Linked DNA regions of Homo sapiens: all the other regions are linked to region 1. Evidence: fine-mapped expression QTL. A gene starts in region 1. Each other region holds a variant in brackets. All regions are shown on one strand. Distances are between the middles of the regions. Region 1 holds the start of PSMF1 (proteasome inhibitor subunit 1). Region 2 overlaps PSMF1 (proteasome inhibitor subunit 1). Region 3 has its middle 52 kb from the start of PSMF1.

What was found. PIP is the estimated chance that this variant, and not a neighbour inherited with it, causes the effect.
Region 2: its variant is the best candidate, but not a certain one, in a credible set for the expression of PSMF1 in skeletal muscle (GTEx, PIP 0.55).
Region 3: its variant is the best candidate, but not a certain one, in a credible set for the expression of PSMF1 in blood mononuclear cells (TOPMed, PIP 0.60).

The regions. Positions count from the first base shown.
Region 1 is chr20:1,116,464-1,120,708 of GRCh38, forward strand. It overlaps PSMF1 (proteasome inhibitor subunit 1), which reads left to right and starts at 2,139. Exons shown (of 7, transcript NM_006814.5): 1 at 2,139-2,439. The coding sequence starts at 2,311. LOC105372493 (a long non-coding RNA gene) reads right to left here and starts at 1,985. Exons shown (of 2, transcript NR_136535.1): 1 at 1,921-1,985; 2 at 1,389-1,525. RefSeq lists enhancers at 1,890-2,532, 1,932-1,981, 1,992-2,041, 2,052-2,241, 2,282-2,411.
Region 2 is chr20:1,136,612-1,140,856 of GRCh38, forward strand. The region is part of intron 4 of PSMF1 (proteasome inhibitor subunit 1); the gene reads left to right. Among named protein-coding and RNA genes, the nearest start is that of PSMF1, 20 kb to the left of the region's middle. The variant G/T (reference allele first, on the strand shown) is at 2,438.
Region 3 is chr20:1,064,235-1,068,479 of GRCh38, forward strand. No RefSeq gene overlaps it. Among named protein-coding and RNA genes, the nearest start is that of PSMF1, 52 kb to the right of the region's middle. The variant A/G (reference allele first, on the strand shown) is at 2,088.

The sequences.
Region 1 (4,245 bases):
GTTGTCTCAAGGAAACTTTAGGAACACAAAATTTGGAGAGGCACAGGGCCAGCTGACAAAGGGAGTGATGGACTATAAAGAGGTAAGAGTGCCCTGACTGGGTTGGGGCTAGGCCAAGAATTCATTCCTTCATTCAGTATTCATTCTGTCTTTCAATAAGTATAGATTGATCCCAGAAGGCACTCAGGTACATATGTGCACAAGGTAGACATGCTCCCTGTTCCTTTGTCACAGTCTAGTGGAAAGACAGTCATTAAATAAGCAAAGAAATAAACACCTAACATAGTTTCAGGTTATGATTAATGCTTTGCAGGAAAAAAAAAAAGCCAGAGAGGGATTAAAGACGGGAGAAGGTTATTTTGGATGGAATGGTCTGGGAAGCCCTCTGTTGAGGATGGTAGGAGTGAGGGATGAAGCCACTTGAAATGAAGAAGCAAGACATGCAGATATCTGGGAAAAGAGCATTCCAGGAAGAGGAACGCAAAGGCCCAAACAGAACACATGAAACAGGGAAACTGGCTGGGAAGCTACTGCAATAGTCTAAGTGTGAGATGCTGGAGGATCAGACCAGAGTGGAAGCAGTGAAGGTGATGGGAAGTGGTCAGATTCATAATATATTTTGAGAGTGGAGTCAACTAGCTTTGCTGTTGGACCAGATGTAGATGTGAGAGAAGAGGGGGAGCCAAGGTTATTGCACGTATAAAGGGGATGAGAGGACAGTTGAAGGAGACTGAATCAGAGAGGTACAGGGCTGGCAGGGCTGGGGCAGGAGATGGCAGACCACATGCAGATTCCTGCAGACCATGGGGAGGACTTTACTTTTCCATTGAGTGTGACGATTTTGAGCCAACGGATGTGATCTGACTTTTCTTTTTTTTTTTTTTTCTTTTTTGAGACAGAAGATCGCTCTGTTGCCCAGGCTGAAGTGCAATGGTGCGATCTTGGCTCACTGCAACCTCCACCTCCACCTCCCGGGTTCGATTGATTCTCATGCCTCAGCCTCCCGAGTACCTGGGACTAAAGGCGTGCGCCACCACACCCAGCTAATTTTTGTATTTTTAGTAGAGACAGGGTTTCACCATGTTGGCCAGGCTGGTCTCAAACTCCTGACCTCAAGTGATCCGCCTGCCTCGGCCTCACAAAGTGCTGGGATTACAGGCATGAGCCGCCACACCTGGCCGATCTGACTTGTTTTCTAACAGAATCTCTCTGGTTGCGGAGTGCAGTACAGACTAGAGAGAGACAGGAATGGAATGGGGCAGTTCTGAGGCTGATGCCAGGCATCCAAGTGAAAGATGACAGGAGCTTGAACCAGGTTAGTGACTGGGATGGGGAAACTAAATTTATTTGGGTAAAAACAATAAGTGGATTTCATGAAACTTGTTGAAGTAACGGGTGGTAAAAATCATAAAGGGGGTAGGCAAATAAATGATTGAAATTTGATAGTGGGTCAGGAGCTTCAGCTCTGCGGGCAGCAGTTGTGTCTCCTTGGAGAAGTGGTTTCAACTCTGAGCCGTTTTGTCATCTGCAAAATGGGGATAATAACGGTCCATACTTCATAGAGTTGTTGAGAGGGTGATGTAAAGGTTTTAGCGCACGATGTAGCACACAATAAACACTTAATAAATGTTATCTTAGAAGCCAGACTGCCAGGTTCCCATAACCATTTCAGCCGTTCACCGGCTGGCTGTTGTCATCTTGGTCAAATTATCCCTCTGCGCCTCAGTTTCCTCATCTGTGCAATGAGGCACATTAATCGTTAATATCAACTGCATAGAGTTGGGTTGTGAAGATTAAATAAATGAATACAAGTAAAGCGTTTAGAATAATGTGGACGGTAGCAAGCACGGCGAACGTGTTAACGATTATTAAGAATGTATTTTAGCCACATTTCCCAGCCCCTTCCCCGGCCTAGCATACCCCATTTTGTGGATGGGAAGTCTGCCTCTCAGCAAGGTGGCCTCTTGGAGGACGCTGTGCCCGCGTCAGGCGATCCTGTCGACTGCCGCCAAGACCCGGCTTCCGGCTTTGAGGGGCCACGCCCCGCTCGCACTCCCTGGCGGAACCTTTCAGTGCTGCGCTCGCGTTGCCAACCCGGCGCGCCTCACGCAGTTGCGCCCGCTGTTGGGACTACTTCCGGCTTCCCCGCCCCGCCCCGTCCCCGGGCGTCTCCATTTTGGTCTCAGGTGTGGACTCGGCAAGAACCAGCGCAAGAGGGAAGCAGAGTTATAGCTACCCCGGCCGCGGAGCCGGCTCACTGCACTACCCCCGCCCCCTTCTTTCCTCCAGACGCCGAAGTCGCGGGCGCTCATGGCGGGCCTGGAGGTACTGTTCGCATCGGCAGCGCCGGCCATCACCTGCAGGCAGGACGCGCTCGTCTGCTTCTTGCATTGGGAAGTGGTGACACACGGTTACTTCGGCTTGGGTGTCGGTGACCAGGTACGCCACGGAGCCGGCCAGGGTGGAGGAGGGAACTGTCTTCTGCCCAAACTCAGAGTACCGGAGGCCTGGTCCAGAGCGCCCGATTTCCCCGCTTCTCCCAGTGCAGGGTCTGGGGCAGATGGCAGCGTTGGTAAAACCTGCGGGTCGGAGGTTGCTCACCTGCCCCATCCCAGCCCAGAGTCCCTCACGGCACAGCTGGCACAACATGATTTGTAAACTCAAGGGCGGACACTCGCTTCAACACAGCCTGGCAGCCTCTCAGGCCAGGACTGTGTGGATCTAGCATTCCATAGAATGGCAAAGAATCTAGACAGGAGTTTAGCTCCCCAGAGCACTTCTCACCCACCTGATCCCGTCTGAACTCCTTACCACCCAGCCTCGGGGTGAGGGGACTGACTCAGTTCCGCCCTCATACCACAGTAGAGCCTCCACCAAACATCTGGATCCAAGCACAGGTACAGGAGTGAGCTTTGACCTACTCAGCCCCAGGCCAGGGCCCTTTTTTCACCCGTTAGCATGGGCCCAGAGAGTTCACACGCCTTTCACCCTTTACTGAAGGGCCCAGCATAGTCCACTCGCTACTGCCATCCCCAACTCAAGCTCTAGGAAGCAATCACCCCCAGAGTCGTACACACATACACCCTGGGTGTGAGGGTCATATAAGATTTTCTCCTCATAGTTGTCCCCATAGGGCCAGCCCCTCTTCTCCCATCCCCAGGCTCCACCTCTTACAGCTAGGGACGTCGTTGTCATCCCCACAGAGTTCTAGGACTGCTGGACCCAACCCACCTCACTAATTCTTTGCTCTGGCATTCTTCTTTCTTTCCTGTCTCTTCCCTGTGACCCTCATCCCCAACATCCACATCATCCTAGACATCTGCTTCCTGGGAGAAGTGGGCCTGCCTCCATGCCTGCCCCTCACTGTCACTGTTCTCTCACTCTCAGAACCAAGACTAGCCATGGGAAACAGACCACCCCACCTATTGCATCTTGCCATGAGATTTCACCCTTCCTCTCCTTTTTGACTGCTTCAGTTCTCAACTCCTCTAATCATTTTTTTTAGCTTCTCAAATAGAGTCTTAATTCTCCCCTCCTGACATAGCTTTAGGGACCTCTCTTCAAACTTGCTTTGTACATTCTGAGCACTTAGACAAGTATCCCCTTTCCCCCACCCCTCACTGCTGTCCCTATTCCTCTCTGTCTCTTAGAACTAAAGACCAAGACCACCATACCCCTCTCACACTTTACCCCCTCCAGCAGGAATCAGAACACAAGAACCGTCAGGGATTTCTGGCTCTTTTTTTCCCCAGACCTCAATTATCTCACTGGGACCCCAGGTACACACTCAGGATCCCCATTCCCACCTCCAAACTCACACATACTTCATCTCTCAAATGGGCTCTAAGACTAGATATGAGGATGGAAAAGAACAGCTAGCCTTTCACACACACATACCTGGAAGCAGGAATCATTTCACCTTCCCAAACACATCTGTCCCTGACCTTTCTCTTTGTGCTGCTCTTCATTCCACATACCTTCCAAATGTCTTCCAGCATTTCAGACCTTGGGACCAGGTAGAGACAGCACCCCCATTTCAGCGTCAGGCCCCTCTTTCAATGCATAGTTCCCCTAACAGAAATCTTGTCTCCCCACTTGTCTTACTCCAGCTTTTTAATCTTAAGCAGCTCTTCACTTGCCCCAGTCATTTTATTTCAACTTTTCCTAGATTCTTCAAAGAAACTGGTATGTGGGATGGTGCAGGGGACAGTGGGGCTGAGAAGAGGAGTAAGATTTGATTTTGAC
Region 2 (4,245 bases), 20 kb after region 1:
AAGAGAGTAATTGATAAGATGATGATGTGTATTCCATGCGTAGGTGCCTGAGTACACTGGAGAGCATGGATGTTTACACCTGTATGTGGAATTATCTTGAATTCAACAGTGACAAAGGCTGTTGTATATAGATGTATTATGTCAACAACTCAAATACCACAAAACTCTGTTGCTGTTACTAACATGACTTTTTTGAAATGGTAAACAGCTGTTAGGAGAATTGCAAACAAAATAGTGATTGAATATTGTTTCTTCAGTTATACCATAGTTACATTCCTGGAAAAATGTGCTTGTTTTAAAGTAGTAGAAAAAAATACTTAGTGTTCATATATAAAATGGCCTTACATTCAGATAATTTATTTAGGCTTTACACCTCCATGAGTATCTAACAAGACATTTGAAAATTGTGTGGGATGCAGGTCATTCTTCATTTCGTGAAACTCTACTATGAATTGTAGAACATCCAGCATCTCTGGTCTCTGCCTGTAAATGCCAAGAACGCCCTCCAACTACTATGACAAGCAAAAATGACCCCAGGGCTTGCACTATGGCACCTGGAGGCTATGCTTCCCTATTTGGGAATCATAGACGTAGAGTATAGAATTGTGAAAGTAAAAATCCTAGCCTTGGAAGAACTGAGAGAATGAGAAAATCACCATGTTGCAACTTCTGCTGAAATAATGTACCTAGTCACAAATTGTCAATGGTTGATAAAACTATTAAGTAAAGGTCGATAGGGGACTTTATATTAGGTGGATCTGGCGAGTAGCATCTGAACCCATTGGTTAATCTTAACGCTAAAAGTGGGATAGCCAGATACTGTTTTCTAATATTATGCAATAGTAAGTTCACAGCAACCTCAATCTAGATCTAACTCCCAGTTTAAAAATATGAAGGACAGAAGAATGAGTCAAACAGGTGCATGAGGATACAACATCCAAAATTGGAATATGGAAAAATTATATAGGATAAATTGACCTTGTTTTTTCAACAAATAAATTAATCGCATGGGGAGAAAAGGGAGAAAAGGAGGCTCTTGTGGAAAGAGTCATACCAACTAAAATGCAGTGTTGGACCTTGTTTGGATCTTGATTCAAACTAATTCAAAAAATTATTTTTCAAACATTTGGGGAAATTTGAGCATTGACCAGGTATTAGATAGCATTATGAATTACTGCCAGTTTTGTTAGGTGAAATAATTCTGCTTATGTTAAAAAAAGTCTTTATCTGTTAGAGATATACATTGAAGTATTTAAAGGTGAATGATATGTCTGGGATTTACTTTAAAATAATTTCAGCCCCCGCCAAAAGAGTAAGGTGTTGGGGAGGGGAAGTATAAGTAAAATAAGAATGGTGGACTATTGATAATTATTGAAGTTAGGCGGGAATACACACAGGAACTCATGATACTATTCTTACTATTTTTTGGTATGTTAAAAAATTTCCTTAATAAGGAGTTTTTATTAATACCAGTTCTTCACATAGTCCTCCAAAAAATAGAAGAGGAGGGAATACTTCCCAGCTTCTTCTGTGAAGCTAGTATTATCCTGATAACCAGTACCAAAGACATGACAAGAAAACTACAAGCCAGTATCCTTTATGAATACAGATATGAAAACCCTTAACAAAGTACTAACAAACCAAATCCAGCAACATATACAAAGGATTATATAACATGACCAAGTGAAATTGATTCCAGGAATGATTGATTTAACATCTGAAAATAAATCAGTGTTAAGATACCATATCAATAGAACAAAGGAGGCCAGGCGCCCGGTGGCTCATGCCTGTAATCCCTGCATTTGGGAGGCTGAGGCACAGGAATCGCTTGAACCCGGGAGGTGGAGGTTGTAGGGAGCTGAGATGGCGCCACTGCACTCCAGCCTGGGCAACAGAGACTGCATCTCAAAAAAAAAAAAAAAAAATACAACAAAGGATAAAAACTACATGTTCATCTCGATAGAAAAATAGCATTTGACAAAGTCTGACACCCTTTCATGACAGGAGCATTCAGTTAGCCTGGGAAATATAGTGAGACCCTGTCTTTACAAAAAAAATTAAAAATTAGCCAGGCTTGATGGCATATACCTATAGTCCCAGCTACTTAGGGTGCTGAGGTGAAAGGGTCACTTCAACCTGGGAGGTCAAGGCTGCAGTGAGCTGTCATCACACCACTGCACTCCAGCCTGGGCAACAAAGTGAGACCCTGTCTCAAAAACAAACAAAAAAAAACAAAACCAAACAAAAGCAAATAAAAAAACAACAAATTCAGCAATAGGAGGGGCCAGGCATGGTGGTTCACCCCTGTAATCCCAGCACTTTGGGAGGCCAAGGCAGGTGGATTATTTGAGGTCGGGAGTTCAAGATCAGCCTGGCCAACATGGTGAAACCCTGTCTCTACTAAAAATATATAAATAATCTGGGCATGGTTGTGCAT[G/T]CCTGTAATCCCAGCTACTCGGTAGGCTGAGGCAGAATCGCTTGAACCTGGGAGGTGGAGGTTGCAGTGAGCCGAGATCACGCCACTGCACTCTAGCCTGGACAACAGAGCGAGACTGTGTCAGAAAACACACATACGAAAAGAACAACAACAAAAAACAACAATAGAAGGGAATTTTCTAAAGCCAATAAAGAGCATCTACAAAAAGCTCACAGCTGACATTCTCCTTAATGGAGAAAGATGGAGTGTTTTCCTCTTAAGATCCGGAACAAGGCAAGCATGTTTGCTTTTGTTTTTGCCACTTTTATATAACATTGTACTTGATATTCTAGCCAGGGCAATCACTCAAGAAAAATAAGGGGTATCCAGATTAGAAAGTAGGAAGTAAAAATACCTCTATTTGTCAATGACGTGATATCTTGTATACAGAAAATCCTAAGGAATCCTCCGAAAAACAGAACTAAGCAAGTTCAGCAATGTGGCAGGATATAAAATTGATATCCTGGCTAACACGGTGAAACCCCGTCTCTACTAAAAATACAAAAAATTAGCTGGGTGTGGTGGCAGGTGCTTGTAGTCCCAGCTACTCAGGAGGCTGAGGCAGGAGAACGGCGTGAACCCGGGAGGCAGAGCTTGCAGTGAGCTGAGATTGCACCACTGCACTCCAGCCTGGGCAACAGAGCGAGACTCCATCTCAAAAAAAAAAAAACGATAAAAATCAGTTGTATTTCTGTACATTAGCAATGAACAATCTAAAAATTAATGAAATTATCCCATTTATAACAACCCCCAAAAGAATATAATACGTAAAAATAAATTTAACAAAAGAAGAATTGTGAAAGATTTGGGAAAGAATTGTGTAAGATTTGTACAGTGAAAACTGTAAAACATTGTTGAAAGAAATTAAAGATTTAAGTAAAGGAAAGACATTCTGTGCTCACGGCTAGGAAGAATTAATATTAGCCATACTCCCCACTTGATCTACCTATTCAGTGCGATCCCAGTGAAAATCCCAGCAGGTTTTGGGTTTTTCCCCCCCAGAAATTGGCAAGCTGATCCTAAAATTCAGGTAGAAATGCAAGGGAACCAGAATGGCTAAAACAATCTCAAAGAAAAACAAAGTTGAAAGACTTCCAGATCCCTATTTCAAAACTTATTACAAAGCTTCAATCATCAGGACCGTGTGGCACTGGCATTAGGATAAACATATAGAGCAAGGAAATAGAATTGAGAGTCTAGAAATTAACCCATACATTCATAGGGAATTGATTTCAGCAAGGTTGCCAAGACAATTTAGTAGAGAAACCATAGTCTTTTCAAATGGTGCTGGGACAATTGGATATCTACATGCAAAAGAATGAAGTTGGGTCCCTTCCTCGATTACCTCTAAATGAATCACACACCTGAGTGTAAGAGCTTGAACTATAAAATTTCTAGACCTAGAAATAAGTCTACCTTGGGTAGTCTTATTCCCTGACCTTCAGTTAGACTGTGGTTTCTTAGACACAATACCTGGGAGGTTAAAAGCACAAGCAGCGAGAAAAAATAGACAAATCAAACTTTGTCAAAATTAAAATATTTTGTGCATAAAAGGATAGTATCAAGAAACTGAAAAGATAACCCAAAGAATGGGAGAGAATATTTGCAAATCAGATATCTGACAAGAAGCTTGTATCCAGAATATATAAAGAGCTCTTACGACTGAACAATACAAAAGAAAACTCAATTTTAAAATGTTCAAAGGATTTGAGTAGATATTTCTCCAAGGAGGATGTACAGATAGTCCATGAGCACAAGAAAAGGTGTGC
Region 3 (4,245 bases), 52 kb before region 1:
GAGACATAGTGGGTATTCAAAACATACTTAGGGAGGGAGAGAAAAGAGGAAGAAAAAGGAGGGAGGAGAAAGGAAGGTCTAGTAATACTCAGAGCCCAGGAATTACACACCAGATACCCCTTGCTTCTACCCAAGAGGTGGTTCAGATTAGAGATTAGATTTCAAGGCTCCAGCTTGCTAGCTCATAACTGCTTCTACTCAAGACGGTCTATTCATGTAGCAAAGTCAAAATGTGAACATGCTTTTAAGTTCCTTGACGACAGGAATTGTGGCTTGTTTACTCTTCTACCTGGCATTTGCACAGAGCCTGGGCCTGAATGAAAGTTCAGTAAATGGTTCATGAATGATTTGAATGGCATTTGCCTGAAGGAAATCTAAGAAAGTCTTGCCTTGGTTTCCCCATTAAATGGGGCAAGCAATTCTTATCTCCCCTTCCAGAGAGCTGCTGCCAACACAGGGAATCCATCCTGGAAGAAAAGATTGGTGGCCACCTGCACCATCAGGTGGAGGGCATCTCTCAGCTGCCCTTGCCACATCTGCAGCCCTAAGCTTCCAGGTGACCCCAGTGGACCAGTCTGCCCAGAGCATATCATTAGTTAGGGGCACTCTGCAGGAGGATGCCTGCCTTTGCTAGTGCATAGCTAATGTCCCAGGGGGCTTCCTCTAATTAAAACCCAAACTGCAATTATAGTTGTGCCAAAGCATGTGCACATGGCGCCACTTAAAAGGGACAGATTGACAAGGCGTTAACAACTCCAGAGGCAGCATTGTCCCAGCACCAGGTGCTACCAATCATCAAAATTAGAACCAAATGAGTCACTGGGGCTCAAGATACAGTATCCAGTGCAGACTAATGGGTGATTCCAAGAAACTTATGAGGATTATTTAAAACACACTAACTATGCTCCTTCTACAGGGCCTTTGCACTTACTAGTCCCTGTACTTCTTCTTGCCTAACTCTATTTGATCTCTCTCAATTATCACCTCTTCTGAGACACCTGCTTTGATCACATGAATCTCTACCCTGCTTTATTTTTCTTCTTAGTGTTTATTATCATCTGATATTATATATTTGTTTTGCGATTGATAGCCCAAAATATGTTTTAATATTGTATAAATGTAAAACATATATAAATACACAAAATTTTATAATTTTCTGCAATACATATGTATCAAGAAGATACAGCATACACACTAAGGAGGGTGTCTTCTTGGGGTTGGGGGTGGTGAGGCAGGGGAATAGAAAGACTGATTCAGAAAGAAGAGAGGAACAATAAAAGAACAAATGAGAATATTTATATATCCTGATGACAATAGTGGGCCATTATTTGAAGAGTATGATAAACTTGAATTTTCCTTCCTATCACTTGGTAAACTTGAATTATTCCTCCCTGAAGTTCTGTACTCTGGGAAAATTTTCTTTTTTTTTTTTTTTTGGAGACAGAGTCTTGCTCTGTCACCAGGCTGGAGTACAGTGGCACGATCTCGGCTCACTGCAACCTCTGCCTCCTGGGTTCAAGTGATTCTCATGCCTCAGCCTCCCAAGTAGCTGGGATTATAGGCACATGCCACCACACCCAGCTAATTTTTGTATTTTTAGTAGAGACAGGGTTTCACCATGTTGGCCAGGATGGTCTCGATCTCCTGACCTCATGATCTGCCCACCTTGGCCTCCCAGAGTGCTGGGATTACAGGTGTGAGCCACCATGCCTGGCCACTCTGGGATAATTTTATTTTGGTTTTTAGAAATAACTTTATTGAATATTTTAGTACCAGTAATCTTGCGATAAATTTCAGCCCTGGTTTGGTTGTTGTTGTTGTTGTTTTTGGTCTAAAGCCATCTTGATTTTGCCTTTATTTTTGAAGAGTATTTTTACTAGATATAGAATTCTAAGTTGTCAATTATGTATATTTTTTCAGCACTTTATAAATGTTATTTCATTGTCTTCTGGCTTTCATCATTTCTGTTGAAAAGTCTACCATCAGTCTTATTGTTGCTCTTCTGTAGGTAATGTCATTTACCTCTGACTACTTTTAAGATTTTTCTCTTTATTTTTGTTTTTCAGCAGTCTTACTATGATGTTCCT[A/G]TGTATAATTTTCTTAGTATTTACCCTGCTTGGGATTGTCAGAGCTTCTTGAGTCTGTGGGTTGATATCTTTTATCAGTTTTGAAAAAATTCTTAGCTCTTATTTCTGCAAATATTGTTAATTTTGTATTCTTATCCTCACCTTCTAGGACTCCAAATAAATGTATATTTTTTTTACTAGGTCCCACATATCTATGACACATTCGTGTATTTTCTATTATTTTTCTATGTATACTTTAGTTTGGACACTTTTCATTTTTTTAAGTGTGCTAATCCTATCTTCCACTGTATCAAATCTCTGTTAATCCCATCTGATGAATTTTTGATTTCAGATATTATATTTTCTCATTCTAGAGGTATCATTTTTTCTTTTTTATAGACGCTAATTTTCTGATGAAATTCTCCATCTTTTCAAATATTTTGTGCATATTTTTCTGTTTTTTAACATATTAATCTTAGCATGTCAAAGTCATTATCATATACCTGTTTCTATTGTCTATTTTATTCTGTTTGTTTTCAGATATGTCCTAGCTTTGGCATAACTAATAATGTTAATAGAATGCCACTTATTATACATAATGTAGAGACTCCAGATGATATATTCTTCTAGAGAAGATTTACCCTCTGCTAGGCACAGAGTGGGGCTTATCATCATAAACCAGTCAGGGATTGTACTGAGTCAAGACTGTAAGGTAACCCCAGGAAGGTCAGTTTCCCTGTGCTTCAGTCAGTCATACACTGAACACCTCTTCTCAGAGGCTTTATGCCAAGGTTTATAGCCTCCTGCACCAGGTATCCCAGAATCCAGCAAGTGTCTTGAGGGATTAATGAGCCCTCAAGTCTGCCAAAGGCTCTGCTGGTTTCTTCCACACTAGTCCAGTGCTGCATAAAACTTGGATTCTCAGCATTCTGCTTTTGCCTAGAATTGGAAAATGGTCTGGGGTAAAGAAGCTATATAATTCAGCTTACTCCCCTGCTGTTCATTCCTTTCCAGAATTTTAGCAAGTAGTATATTTTTTTCCAATCCTATGATATCTGACAATGCTACTATATTTCTCTAGTCAATTTACTCTTCCATTTCCTGGGCAACCATTTCACTTTCTCTTATTTCTTCACATCTTTGACACCTTCTTTCTCTCCTCACTTCTAACTGACGGCTTACAAATGAAAGCAAGTGGAATGACAATAACTTTTTATAAAAACTTCTACACTAGTCCATCAACACGTCTCTCTAATACTTCTCCCTCCCTCTCTTTCTCTCTCTCCCTTTCTCTCTCTCCATGTGTCTGCTGGATCCCATCATTCTCATCTAATCAAGGACTTTGCTCCTATAATCATCCCTCCATGAATCATTTTCCTCTCTCTGCTAAATTATTCCCATAAGTGGACAAATATACCATTAGTCTCCCATCTTCTAAAAAGTATATACCCTCCCTTGTCTCAATATCTCTGTGCAGCTACCCCCACATTTTGTTTCTTCCCATTTGAAGCAAAACTCCTCAAAAATTGTATATATTCACTATCTTCATTTTCTTTCCTTCTATGCCAAACAGGTTTTCCTCCTTCAAAGCTACTCTCATCAGGGTCACCAAATACCTCTGCATTGCCAAATCCAGAGGTCAGTTCACAGACCTCGCCTTACCTGATTGCTCAGAAGCATTTGACACTGTTCTCTTTGCTGGTTCTTCCTCATGTTCTCGACATCTGAGTGTTGGAGACCCCCAAAATCAGTCCTAGGACTCTTTCTTTTCCTTCTATATATTCCTTTTACGTGCTTTCCTTATTCTCTTTGTATATAATTTAATACCTCTACTGGGTAATTTACAAAGAAAACAAACTTATTTCTCACAGTTCTAGAAGCTGGAAAGTCCAAGATCAAGGCAGCAGCATGTTCAGACGTGTGGTGAGGGCTGCCCTCTGCTTCCTAGATGGTGCCTTGATGCTGTTGTCCTCCAGAGGAGAGGAAATCTGTAAATTCACATAGTGGAAGATACGGAATTATGAAAAAGGAACAAACTCCCTCCATCAAGCTCTTTTATCAGTACCTTGATCCATTCTGCCCTCATGGCTTAAACACCTTTCAAAAGGCCCCACTTCAACACTGTTGCATTGGCAATTAAGTTTCCAACACACACATTTTGGGGAACACATTCAGACCA